2 linked regions of the Homo sapiens genome follow. The protein of the gene in region 1 interacts with the protein of each later gene in a pairwise test. Each region holds a gene or a part of one and is shown on either strand. Other genes may lie near its edges.

The links. The genes of interacting proteins can lie anywhere in the genome.
Region 2: the proteins of MIER1 (region 1) and UQCRC1 interact in binary tests that used the Homo sapiens proteins (3 or more experiments, as listed by UniProt).

Annotation. Positions count from the first base shown.
Region 1 is NC_000001.11:66,955,967-66,962,995, reverse strand, and holds part of MIER1 (mesoderm induction early response protein 1), read right to left. Parts: exon of another isoform or gene 4,938-7,029; coding exon 4,776-4,937; intron 4,146-4,775; coding exon 4,013-4,145; intron 3,318-4,012; coding exon 3,253-3,317; intron 1-3,252. UniProt on the Homo sapiens protein: Transcriptional repressor regulating the expression of a number of genes including SP1 target genes. Probably functions through recruitment of HDAC1 a histone deacetylase involved in chromatin silencing.
Region 2 is NC_000003.12:48,599,641-48,606,669, reverse strand, and holds part of UQCRC1 (cytochrome b-c1 complex subunit 1, mitochondrial precursor), read left to right. Parts: intron 1-813; coding exon 814-900; intron 901-1,519; exon of another isoform or gene 1,520-1,750; intron 1,751-1,889; coding exon 1,890-2,019; intron 2,020-2,238; coding exon 2,239-2,437; intron 2,438-3,026; coding exon 3,027-3,106; intron 3,107-5,202; coding exon 5,203-5,318; intron 5,319-5,551; coding exon 5,552-5,695; intron 5,696-5,829; coding exon 5,830-5,990; intron 5,991-6,102; coding exon 6,103-6,188; intron 6,189-6,518; coding exon 6,519-6,607; intron 6,608-6,959; coding exon 6,960-7,029. UniProt on the Homo sapiens protein: Component of the ubiquinol-cytochrome c oxidoreductase, a multisubunit transmembrane complex that is part of the mitochondrial electron transport chain which drives oxidative phosphorylation.

The DNA of each region.
Region 1 (7,029 bases):
TTTCTCTGTCATAAAATACAAAAACAACCAATTAACTACCTCAGAGGTACCTTTGTGAAGATGAATGACAAATAATGACTGGATGAAAATATTAGTAATAATACTGAGGTGAAATGCAACGTAAACAATAAATACAAACTTTATTTCAAAATATAGAGACAAAGAAGTGAATTCTGATAATTCCATTAGTAAGACAACTGCAAAACATGTAAAACACAAAGTCAAATTCAGATATTTTCAGAGTATCTACACTTAAGACAGTGGTCTTAAATATGATCCCTATATGAGCAGCATCAGTGTCATCTATGAAATTTTTGTTTTTTTGAGACAGGGTCTTGCTCTGTCACCTAGGCTGGAGTGATCATGGCTCACTGCAGCCTCGACCTCCCAGGCTCAAGCAATTCTCTCACCTCAGTCTCTGAGTAGCTGGGACTACAGGCACATGCCACCACACACAGCTAATGGGAAACTGTTAGAAATGCAAATGCTCAGGTCCCACCCCAAACCTACTGAAACTCTGGGGACAGGACTCAGTCATTGGTATTTTAACAAGCTCTCTAGGTGATTCTGACATAGACTGAAGTCTGAAAAACAGAGCTTCAAAGTAGGAAAAATAACAAAAAGGGTTTGTATAAAGCTCAGTAGGGGCCAAATGAAAGAAACTCTAAATGAAATAGATAAGCAGGTTATGGCTTGACTTTCATTAAAACAATACAAAATGAAAAAGTAACCTCCTCCCACAAATATAATTAAATAGGAAATCCAGTAATCATATCTATACAGTCAAATCACAGATTAGGTGAAACTGGATGTTCTCAAAAGCAACTGCAAACTACCACTGGTGAAATTTCACAATGCAAGGAGACCAAGATTACATGAACCCTCTTTTGTGTGATGGCTAAATGTTAAGAACACATTTACTGACATTTTCAAAATTGGGCATGAAAGGTACAAAATCATGGTCTAGAAGTTTTGGTAACTCTTAGGATTTGGAAAGTCTCTCTCCTGCTATTGTTACCTCACTGATGTGAGGAGCTCATTTTATCCAGTACAACTTCAAAGACGTGCTTTATGTAATAAAGTTATTTCTATACCCATAAGAAAAACCAATCTTTCTCATGATCAGTTTTCTAAAAAGAATCAAACTTACAACAAATTTTCTCTACCCTTACAATGGAATTCTCTTTATGTCTTCTACTATAAAAAGAGTCCTTTATTGTCACATCTTGTGCCTCTTTTAACTTAACTCACCTAGGCCTACCAAAGAACATTGTCAAGTTACTAACCCTGGCTGGGGTGCTTCTAAACCATCAATGCCTGGATCCACTGCAGGACAATTAAATTAGAATCTATGAATGAAGGCCCTGGTAGTCAGTACATCTAAGTTATCCAAATGATTCTAACATAAAAACAGGGTTGAGAACATCTGGATTAGTTTAAAGATAGGTACTTCCTTTTTCCTGTTCAGTTCTGAACATTTCTTTTCATCTGTTAATTTGTTCGGTAGTACAGGGAAGGGAAGGGAAATAGCTTTGAAGATCATTATGTGTTAACATATCATATATGCAATTTTCCTTTAATCTTTCAGCAAGCCCCATAAGGCTGACATTGTTATTCCCATACTATATGTAAGAAGATGAAGCTCAAAAATTTGATTTTCTCAGGAGCACACAATTACTAAGTTCTAGAGCTACAACTAAAATTCAGGTTTGACTTCAAAACTGTTTCCCCTACCTTAAGTTTCTATAAAAACTCAATTTCATCTTATAAGTCTTAAAAAAAAATGAATCTCTGAACCTTGACAATTATTTAAAACAACAAAATCATACTGAAAGAAAACAATCTGCATTTACTCTGGCCTGCTTTATTACATAATTTTTTTCTGAGAAAGGTGTGGTTAATTAATACCCTTTCTGAGTAAGGTGTGGGTAATTAATACCCTCCAGCAATGAGAGGTGTTCTACCTCTGAGCTTTTGTTCTTTCATTTAAAAAAAAAACACTGAATGCTTAATCAAATACTCTACTGAACACTCCAGATTAAAAAACAACACATGTTGAAGATACATAAACTTGAATATGAAGTGGGACAGCAATTTATAAGGACTCCCAAGGTTTCTAGCTTTTTTCATCTTAATTTCTGCACACTGTAGGAATCAGATTAAAAACAGGATGAAAGAACCCTTGCCCAAATAGGCCACACAAATTAACTTTTGTGATTCTTGTTTTCTGTCGAGTCCCATCATTTGCTCAAATTAACACATACCGTAAACTGGGCTAACCTTGTCTCTCAACAAAAATAACATTATTTCTTTGTTTTAACCAGTTCTACATAAAAAATTTTTTTGAAGACATGGGGTCTCACTATGTTGCCCAGCCTGGTCTCAAACTCCTGGGCTGAAGTGATTCTCCCTACCTCAGCCTCCCAAGTAGCTGGGACAACAGGGGAAACATCACTGCAACCAGCTAATTCTACATAATGTTTAGATAGATTTTTCCTAAGAGCTCAGTTCTTTTACAATAACTTACAATTCTTTAACTTAACTGTATGATTAATTATATGCTATATAATTTTATAATTAAAAACTAATCTCAATATATTATCTTTAGATTCATTTCAGAAATTAATTGTATATAGTTACGAAGAAGCCAAATCTGTTTCTTCATATAATAAGCTTATCAGTTGTAAATGTCAACATTAAATTCAATCATTTGGAGAGTTTTTCTTTTATAAAGTAATACAGAATGAAAAACTTGCAATATGAACTACTAAACAAAATTTACTTAACAAATATCAAAGCCTCCACAAATGCTTTCCATAATATTGAAAAACATATACGTGATACTTTTTACAGGGCAACAAATGCCTAATTTGGCACTAGTTCAGGACTAAATCAGAAATGTGGATTTCTGTTTTATTTATTTTTTGTTTTGTTTTATAAAATGAGACAGGGTCCCGCAACGCTGCCCAGGCTGGTCTCGAACTCCTGGGCTCAAGCGATCCGCCTGCCTCAGCCTCCCAAGTGCTGGGATAACAGGCGTGAGCCACCACACCCCGCCAGAAATGTAGATTTCTAATCTAACCTAGATGTGTTAAGAAGGAATCTGAACATTTACCAAACATTTAAATGTCATAAAAGGGCTTACATCGATTTTATCAATATACATAGTTAGTAAAAAAAAAAATAATTACACGAGGCTTTTTAAAAAAATATTAATTTATCTAAATTTTGGGAAAATATTGTTCTAACTACCTTTTTCCAGTCTTCTGATGGAATATAATCTTCATCTTCTTCAGATTCTTCTTCTACTTCACTATCTAGAATAAATAAGACACCAATACTATAAAATGACTGCTTATCCTGTCTAAATCTACATATTATTTTTACATCTACCATCAAATATTTGGATATGCTCAAAGATATCTAATGAATTAAGCCAAGATATTTCTAACCAAATAATTAACACCCTATCACTTAAAAAAACAAAACCAAAAAAACCATAAACTTTCTACATAATTGTATTCTCATGAAATGATTTCCTATAAAAACTTAGGGGAAAAAACTGATTTAGAATAAAGATAATATTATCTTACTACATATTTCATGACAGTTTATTTTTCTTCAAGTGTTTTTCTTCCTTTTAAAGTAGAGAAATTTAGGTGTATTTATGAATATACCTAAAAAAGGCTAAGAGGCAAAGAAAGTAAAAAATGGAAACTAAGGGAAAGACTATGAGAAACAAAAAGATGACCATGAAACAAACATTTAAAAACAGGGCAAAGAAAAAACAAATACACCCAAAGTCAAGTAGTACATGACACAATTACCATAGTATATTCACTAACAACAGGGACCCTGCATTGCTAAACTAATAACTTACAACAAAATCCATTTACTGTTGAAAAGAATTTCAGACTAAATGAATTCAAAGACCAGTTTAAAAAAGAGGATTTTAGGTAATACCTAAAATAGTAAAAATTATATTCAAATATTATCAACCAGTAACACTTACTTGTATCAAAATATTTACATCGACGTGGGCGGATTATTTCCTGGGCATCTTGAGAAGCAACAGATTGTGATGGATCATCATTGGAAGACTGAGTTTCATCCTCCTGACCTGATGAATCCTTTATATTCTCCTCCTGTGGAATAATAAATTAAATTTCTCTAAGATGTAAGGAAAACAGTTGCAGATGAAAGACCATAGCATATAAATTTTGTTCTAATATATGCAGAAGACTAAAATGAATATACTAGATGTAGTATCATCCTCTGGGTTGGTTCCTGCAACAGGAAAAAGTACATTAGCAGAAAAACTGGTATAATTCAATCTGCAGTTTAGTTAATAGCACTGTACCAAGATGTTAACCTTAGCAGAAGTTGAGGTAAGAGTATACAGGAACGTTCTATACTAACTTTAAACCTTTTATAAATCTAAAATTATTTCAAAATAAAGTAAGAAAAATAAACACAAACTGCCAATTAGCCTTTATTATTTAAAAGCAATAGCATTTTTTTAGAAAGTTGGTATAAATTAATTAGAATAAGCACTGGAAAAAAAGAAACCTGAAATGACAAGACCAAACTGTTACCTCAGGAGTAAATTACAGGGGATTTCCAATTTTTATATTATGTATTTCTGTAATATCTTAATTTTTAACACTTTTAAAATCAGGAAAAGATTATAAAGACAAGTAATCAAAATATATTAAGCAATTTTAACTTCAACAAGAATAAAGACTACAATCTTAAATATATGTATATAGACTTACTTTATTTTCCCCACTACAGCCACTGTTGTCATCATTATCAGCATCTTCATCATCTTCACCTTCTTCTTCCTCTTCTTCCTCTTCCTCATCTTCTTCAGGTAGTCGAACAGTACTACCATAACCATAAAGGCTGAGAAGTTCATGAATTGGCATGTCGCCTTCCTAAATAAATCAAAATAAAAGGTAATCTCTGAATCAGTGATATTTCTGATTCCCAGGCTATAATCCACAAATCTGTGGAGTATTCATTCTATAGTGAAGAATAAAAGCTGTGTTACGAATTCTCGGATCATAAAAAGTAAAACTGAAAATATTTCTGAAACCTAGGAATATCCCAATCTTTTAAGTATTTCTATAAAATGAACCAGTTATAATTGCTGACAACAAGATCTTTAAGTATAATTAAAAAGTGGCCTTGGTCTAACATGGACTATTCTTTTTGCAATCAATTCAGTATATGCACAATGACAGTTAACGCTATGCATGGATGCCCACTCTTAATAAGAGTACCATACTTAACTTGAGGGTGGAGAAATAGAACAATGAGAAATAGACTATAAGTTAACAAACCCAGAAAGGCAGACGAAAATTCAGAGCTCAGCCCGAACACATGAAAAAAAAAAAAAAAAAAAACACAAACAAACCAGTAGTAATATACAGAAATGATAATGGACTACATTAACCATATATTCTTCTCTATGGTTATCTCCATTTACATATAAAATCATCTCATGAAATCCTTACCATCTATCATACGGACTTGTTATATTATTTCCATTTCATAGATGCGAAAACAGAGGCTGACAGGTTAAGCATTTCTTCACAAATCACACAAGTTACAAGTAGTAGAGCCAGATTTAAACAGTCTAACTCCAAAAGCCCATATTCATATCAATACACCATGGTGCCTTGGGCAGGGACTTCCCTCAATCCCCACAAAAATCAGACCCTCCGTGGATGAAAAAGAAATGTCCATACACAATGAAATGAAATCAGCTTTCTATACAAACTACTCACTCTAACCAGTAAACAAGAAATGCACAGCATCAGGGAAACATAACAGAATTCTGATTATAAAAAGAAAATTTAATCCAAATCATGTGAACATATTATACACTCATGCACACCCACATACAATGCACATGGTCTGAAGCAAAACAGTCAGAAAACAATCAGTTTAGAAGCTAGAAAAAAAAGGGTAATCATGAAATAAGACATGGTTTATGTTTCTCCAGCAGTCATGGAAAGAAGTAAGTCTAGCTCATGTGTTAAACACATTGCTACAATGGATATGGGTAAATCAGACTGGATTAGATGATACAATTAACCTGCATCACTCAAAATCCATGTGTGGGAAGAAATTAATGATTATCATTTGAAAAGATTTTCTTAGGAAGAACTAGGAAGAAACTGTCATCCAAAACTTCTATTTCCCATTACAAATGGATATTCTGGTTATGAATGAGTTTGTGAATCTATTTCTGAAAGATAAATCAATTCCAAGACCCCTAATGATTTGCAGAAGCTACAACCTGAAAAGCGGTAACTTTATCAAGGCAAGGTATTGCCACTCTAGCTAAATAACCAGCTGGCAAACAAATGACAGCTCTTACACTGTGTCTCTCAAAGTACAACACCAACAGTGCTTTAAGTGTTCAAGTATCTGGTCCATGTACCAAGAATCTGGTACAGGACATTGGTATTTGGGAATCTGGAGAGTCAATACTCAGGAACTAAAACAAAACTTCAAAATAAGAGATAGAAGTGTAGTAAGAGAAATATAATGAAAAGGCTAGATTTATTTTTTGAGACAGGATCTTGCTCTGTCACCCAGGCTGGAGTGCAGTGGCATGATCACTGCTCACTGCAGCCTCAACCTTCAAATGATCCTCCCACCTCAGCCTCCCAAGTATCTGGGACTATACATGTGCACCACCATGCCTGGCTAATTTTTGTATTTTTCATAGAGAAGGGTTTCACCATGTTGCCCAGGCTGGTCTCAAACACCTGGATGCAAGCGATCTGCCCACCTTGGCTTCCCAAAATGTAGGATTGGAAACATGAGCCACCGTGCCCAGCCTAAAGCTAGTTTTATATACAAGAATAACAAATAGCTGTCATAAAGTATCTTCTATGTGTCAGGCATTTATGATAGATGCTTTGATTTCACTGTCTTTTTCTCTTGCAACCATGAAAGCAGTGTCAACACACACAATTTCATTAGATCTTTAGAAGTACCAAATGGAGTGCTTGC
Region 2 (7,029 bases), on another chromosome or scaffold:
TGGGTTCAAGCAATTCTGCCTCAGCCTCCCAAGTAGCTAGGACTACAGGCACGTGCCACCACACCTGGCTAATTTTTGTATTTTTAGTAGAGACAGGGTTTCACTATATTGGCCAGGCTGGTCTCGAACTGCTGACCTCGTAATCCACCTGCCTTGGCCTCCCAAAGTGCTGGGATTACAGGTATAAGCCACCGCGCCCAGCCTGTGGTGCGTGTTTCACAGCAACCAGGAGGCTGTCAAGAAAATTAATATTACCTTATTGGGTGCCAAGGCAACACTGTTTGGTGTTCAGAGCTGATTAAAAACAACAACAAAAAAGATATTATAGGAACAATATTTAGTGTGATAAAATATACAGTCTAAACCAATAGTCCCTTCCTTAATGATGAAAGGATAAAATCATTGCCAGAACAAAGGCAGCGTGTAATTTTTAGAAAGGAAAAAATAAGTTGTTATTTGCAAATGATATGTTGTATGCTTAGACAAAAACAAATAATTAACTGAAAATTGAGAGTGAATTTAAGGATTTGTATGCTGGTGAGACCAGGTAAATGTGCACAGTTAGAAGTGTCCCTGTGGGTCCTTGATAGCCAATCAGGAGAGCAATGATGTGGTGTGACGAGTCATTCGGCTGCCCCTGTTTTCCAAGCATGACTGTGTCCCCAAGCACAGGGGTCCTGCTGGGGCAGCTCTCCCTGACTCCAGGATTCATAAGTCCCTGCCTGGGGCTTGTACTGAGTCACTCAGGTGGGGTGTGAGTAGGGGGCTGGGGAGTGGTTTGTTTGTAACCTTTTCTGGTGGCTTCTTGACCAGGTGGGAGTGTGGATTGATGTTGGCAGCCGTTTTGAGACTGAGAAGAATAATGGGGCAGGCTACTTTTTGGAGCATCTGGCTTTCAAGGTGAGGCTCTTAAAGTCTGTCTCCTCTGGGCTTAGGGCTGCCTGTTGTCCCTCCTGAGGATGAAGGTCAGAAAAATTAGCCTGATTATGGGCCTCAGTTGCGGGGCTGATGTCTGGCTGGCTTTCCTAAAAGGAGCCACATGAGCTTAACCTCTCCTGAGTGGGCACGTATCTGATGAGCCCCTGCCTGAGGCCCTCAGAGCCAAGAGGACCCAAGGAACCATAGGAGCCCCACTTTTCACCAGAGAAGCCAGGCCTGTGGAACACACGTAGATATGCACATGCATTTTAACAAACCCACAGACATGGGCATGCATGCTTGCTTATGAAATGTTCTTCTCTGGTGGAATATCTAGGCATCCCTTGGTTGTAAAGACCCATGTTTTTTAAAGGAATGAAAAACATGGAGAAGGATTATGGGGTGGGCAGGGCCATGGAGCCATAGTAGGCAACCTAGCCAGCTGCAATGTCACAGGTATGTGTGCAGAATTAACGTGTGTGTGCACACCAAGAGATAGCACCACTGTTCTCCACACACAGGACTAGGATTGGGTCCCACAGAGGCCACTAGCATGTATTCACAAACATACAGTCATGGGAATGGCATGGGAGGAGTGGGTTCTATCACTTGAACACAGGTGTGGGCTTACCTGACCATGGCTGTCAATAAGGAGGGGGGAGGTGTACTGGTAATGATCCCCACAGCTTGTTGGTAAGCTGTTACAGGAGCTTTAGGCAACACTTGCTCTGGCCATGCCCTTCAGTCCTGGCCCTGGCTATCTCTGTTCTGTTGGCGCATGATGCCATGGTTTTGGTCACCTCAAGGCCTGCTTAGTGCTTGGTAAACAGACTCTGGGATCTGTGTCCCCAGAGTCTATGCTGAGGGAGGTACCTGTGGACCAGTGGTCCTGCTGGGTGTTTAGCCTCTGAGGACAGGGTTCTTGGGTTCCTGTGTAGCTCCTGATTGTTCTGGTTGATATCTGGTTCCAGGGAACAAAGAATCGGCCTGGCAGTGCCCTGGAGAAGGAGGTGGAGAGCATGGGGGCCCATCTTAATGCCTACAGCACCCGGGAGCACACAGCTTACTACATCAAGGCGCTGTCCAAGGATCTGCCGAAAGGTAACACCTGGAGGAAGAGGCGGGGACAGAGGGCAGGGAAGCAGAGGACAGCTACCTAGGAGCCCCTGGCTGACCACAGAATCATATTACCCTTAGCGTATGGCTTTGCAGCTGGGCAACTAGGGGTGGGCAGCAGGAGATGCCAGGCCTGGGGATTTTGTGCTGTCGTTGGTCTGCAGTGGTCCACCTGGCACCTAAACATGTCCTCCTTGCATCTAGCTGTGGAGCTCCTGGGTGACATTGTGCAGAACTGTAGTCTGGAAGACTCACAGATTGAGAAGGAACGTGATGTGATCCTGCGGGAGATGCAGGAGAATGATGCATCTATGCGAGATGTGGTCTTTAACTACCTGCATGCCACAGCATTCCAGGGCACACCTCTAGCCCAGGCTGTGGAGGGGCCCAGTGAGAATGTCAGGTGAGAGTTGGCTGGCCTTGTGGGGGGATGCTTGCTCCATTCTGGCCTGGCCAGACCCTTTCCAGGTCACATTTTTAGTTGGCTAGCTGTCGGGGTTATTTTCCTGAGTTATGCAACTGGAGACAGTTTCTGTATCCATGTGGTCCAGTGAGTCTTTTTTAATGGCTTTGTGGGCTTCACTTGAATTTTGGGCTTTGTTTTAAGGTATGTTTTGGTGCATGTCCTGACAGTCCAAGGGCGAAGTGTCTGGGTGTCCCCTCCATGTGGTCTCTTGTCTCCTTTGTGGATGGCTCCGGGAGCTTTGATGCTGCCCTTTTGAGAGTCCCACAGTGTTGGCTCACGCCTTCTCAGAGAAGACTATGAGCCTGTCCTGAAGTCAGGCATGAGGCAAGGGCAGACAAGGGTTGCCCTCTGGGCCCTGGAGGGGTGGGTGGCAGAGACAGGGGAAGGGGGTTGGGGAGTGTGCTAGGGCCCACTCTTCGGAGAAACCATGCCTCTCCTAGTCTGCCTCCTCAGTCCCATTCATGCATGTACCCCAACTCACTCCAGTGTGGTAGAGGTGTTGACACACTGACCATATGTCTTGTAGGAAGCTGTCTCGTGCAGACTTGACCGAGTACCTCAGCACACATTACAAGGCCCCTCGAATGGTGCTGGCAGCAGCTGGAGGTGAGTGATGGAATCACTGAAGTCCTGGGTAGTGGGGTCCCAGCCTTGGTTATCAAAGCCGAGGTCCTGGTTCCCACCATAGGGGACCTTTCACCCCAGGGGACTCTGCTCCCACCCTAACCTTGAGGGGAATGACCTTCCTCCTGTGCTCTCTGAGGTGGGATAGGATTCTACCCTGCCGCCACCACTGGGACTGGTTACACAGGATGCTGTCCCTCTGGTACAGGTCTGTCTTAGCCCCACCTGGTTCTAGGATACTGAGTTCATGGGCTGGTAGGGGATGTAAGCTCCTGGCCTTGTTCCTTGTGGCCTTGCCCTTGGGAGAGCCAGCCATTAGTTGTGTGTTGATGCATGCCTGATAACAAACCAAGAAGTGCCTTGAAAGGAAGGCACAGAAGGGTGGGGAAGATTTCACTGGGGACTCAGAGTTGGAGTTTGGGGGAGGGGCTTTTTAAAGCACCTGTAGTTTGAACAGAAGCCTGAAAGGTGGTGAGTGTTATTTAGGTGGGGTGTGGGGAGCTGAGCGCAGGGGAAGAGCAGTGTCATGGTCTAAGGTTTGCTCTGCTGCTGTGTGGGGTCACAGTGCAGGTAGGCTGGCTAGAGAGGGGCTGTGGCAGGGACTGGGCAGGAGATGGCAGGAGCAAGGGGGAGCAGTAGATGGACTCCAGGTGGTTTTATAGATGGAACCTGGTTGGGGTCTGGACATGGGTAAGGAACTGAGGTCAAGGTGCTTCCCATCTTGGCTGGTCGTGGTGGCTCACGCCTGTAATCCTAGCACTTTGGAAGGCCGAGGTGGGTGAATCACCTGAGGTAAGGAGTTCGAGACCAGCCCAGCCAACGTGACAAAACCCCGTCTCTGGTAAAAATACAAAAATTAGCCAGGCTTGGTGGCAGTTGCCTATAATCCCAGCTACTTGGAAGGCTGAGGCAGGAGAATCCCTTGAACCCGGGGGACGGAGGTTGCAGCGAGCTGAGATTGTACCACTGCACTCCGGCCTGCACAACAGAGTGAAACTCCATCTCAAAAAAAAAAAAAAAAACAAACATGCTTCCCAGCTTATGACCTTGGCGGCTGAGTGTGCAGAAAAGACCAATAGGAAGAGCATGACCAGGGGCTTTGGAGCTGGGGAACCTGGGGGCAAGAGCAATCTGACGTGTGTGTCAGACTAGCAGGGCTTGAGCTCATGGAAGGAAGGAATGAAAGGCCAACGCAGGCCGGGCGCGGTGGCTCACGCCTGTAATCCCAGCACTTTGGGAGGCCGAGGCGGGCGGATCACAAGATCAGGAGCTCGAGACCATCCTGGCTAACACAGTGAAACCCCGTCTCTACTGAAAATACAAAAAAATTAGCCAGGCGTGGTGGCGGGCGCCTATAGTCCCAGCTACTCGGGAGGCTGAGGCAGGAGAATGGCGTGGACCCGGGAGGTGGAGCTTGCAGTTAGCTGAGATTGCACCACTGTGCTCCAGCCTGGGCAACAGAGCGAGACTCCGTCTCAAAAAAAAAAAAAAAGGCCAATGCAACTGGTGGCACCACAGAGCCCTCCTCTTGTGGAGGTGAGGAGGCAAGATCCAAGGAGTCCTAGGGTATACGTTTGTAACATTATTTGCAAATGTCCCCAGCTCTCAGGGGACCCAAGAGCTAATCACAGCCCTGTAATAGCTCCTCTTTCTGCCCCCTCACTTGCCACCCCCTGCAGGGCCAGCAGCCAGAAATACTTGAGGGAGAGCTAGAGGGAAAAGGCAGGCCAGGTGGCTTTGTGCCCAGGAGTACCAGTCTTGTCCTTGATGTAGGTGGAATGCATCTTCTCAAGTGAGAACCCACACTTGGATCACATGGCAGCCCATTTTGAAACTCTGAACGCTTTTGCTCTCCTGGGACTGAGGCCATGGGAGCTATTTGGCCCTGAGGTGCCTGTCCTGTCCACAAGGCAGGGTCTGTCTGAGGAGGACCTTCTTTCCTCACCCTGTTCTAATGTCACATACTCCTGGTTTCTCCCACTAAGACAGGACATGGGGGTCCTCTGCCTGTCTGTGAATCGCCCCACCCTGTGCCTTGGGCCCTGGCTGGTCAGTAATGCCACTGTCTGTCTCAGCAGGAGTGGAGCACCAGCAACTGTTAGACCTCGCCCAGAAGCACCTCGGTGGCATCCCATGGACATATGCAGAGGACGCTGTGCCCACTCTTACTCCATGCCGCTTCACTGGCAGTGAGGTATGCTGCCTTTTGGGCAGGAGTAGTGCTCAGCTGGGGGCCTGTGGGAGGACCCCCATGTGCATGGTTATCCTGGTGACTCCAGAGATACCTCAGCAGTTGGGAAGGGGTTCTGTGGCTGCTGCATCACAGGCACACATGTTCACACACATACACCCTCTACCCACACCTGCCACCTTTTCTGTTCCCCTGGCAGTCTGGCTGTTCCTCAGCCTTGTCATGTACTGTTTCAGATCCGCCACCGTGATGATGCTCTACCTTTTGCCCACGTGGCCATTGCAGTAGAGGGTCCTGGCTGGGCCAGCCCGGACAATGTGGCCTTGCAAGTGGCCAATGCCATCATCGGCCACTATGACTGCACTTATGGTGGTGGCGTGGTGAGTGCCAGCGCGAGCATGGGACCTCGCCTTCAGGGAAGAGAGGGTGCTGGGGCTGTGTGCTCCTGTGCGTGGGGGTCACAGTGTGCGTTGAAGACAAGAGGGTGGGTGCTGACCACCTATCCCCCTGGCAGCACCTGTCCAGCCCACTGGCTTCAGGTGCTGTGGCCAACAAGCTATGCCAGAGTTTCCAGACCTTCAGCATCTGCTATGCAGAGACGGGCTTGCTGGGTGCACACTTTGTCTGTGACCGAATGAAAATCGATGACATGATGTTCGTCCTGCAAGGGCAGTGGTAAGTGGCAGCCTGGTATTCCTAGGTGGGATGGCGGCTTTAACCAGCACAGTGGGAGGCTGAGAGATGACACACTGGCTCAGAATGAATACCACCCACCCCCCCACTTTAGGATGCGCCTGTGTACCAGTGCCACGGAGAGTGAGGTGGCCCGGGGCAAAAACATCCTCAGAAATGCCCTGGTATCTCATCTAGATGGTGAGTCCTACAGCTCAGCGGGGAGGGGTAGAGTACATCTTGCCAGCGACAGCACCAAGGTGGCCACTGCTCCTAACTAACCAAGGTTAGAAAGGAAAACTTTGAAGACCACGCCATGCCCCATCACCCCACCCTTGGAGATGCAGGCAGGTGTGAGACAGGTCCACAGCCCATCACTGCCATAATAGGTGACCATAGAAGAGAGGGCTGTGATCTGAGTCAGCATGAGGTCAGGGAGGTCCTTGTCAACCTGAGGCTGGAGATTGTTTGTGTACCTGTGGGTCCAGGATTGGGCTGGGTGGACCTCTGAGCCTTCTCTCACCCTTAAAGGCACTACTCCTGTGTGTGAGGACATCGGACGCAGCCTCCTGACCTATGGCCGCCGCATCCCCCTGGCTGAATGGGAAAGCCGGATTGCGGTAACATGGACCCCTGGGAGAGGTTCTGGAGTCTTGGCCTGGCAGACACCTGGGAGGTGTAGGGTTGGGGCCTGGCATAGCGCAGCCTGCTCCTATAGGCATCCCTGGTGTCCTAGGCAGCTGTCACCTGCAGGGGTAGCATAGTGGGAGGGCAGGGCATAGGTGCTGATGGCTGTGGAGATGGGCGGGGCCCATGGAGGTCTATAGCAGGGATCCCTTCTGCCTTTCCTCTTTTGGGCTGGGGACAGCTGCATGCTGCCTGTGGGAGATCTCTGCTAGTTGGATGATGCTGACTGGCTGAGGTGGTGGCCAGGTGCCCGTTAGCCAGTATGCCCTCTGCCTCACCCTGCAGGAGGTGGATGCCAGTGTGGTACGTGAGATCTGCTCCAAGTACATCTATGACCAGTGCCCAGCAGTGGCTG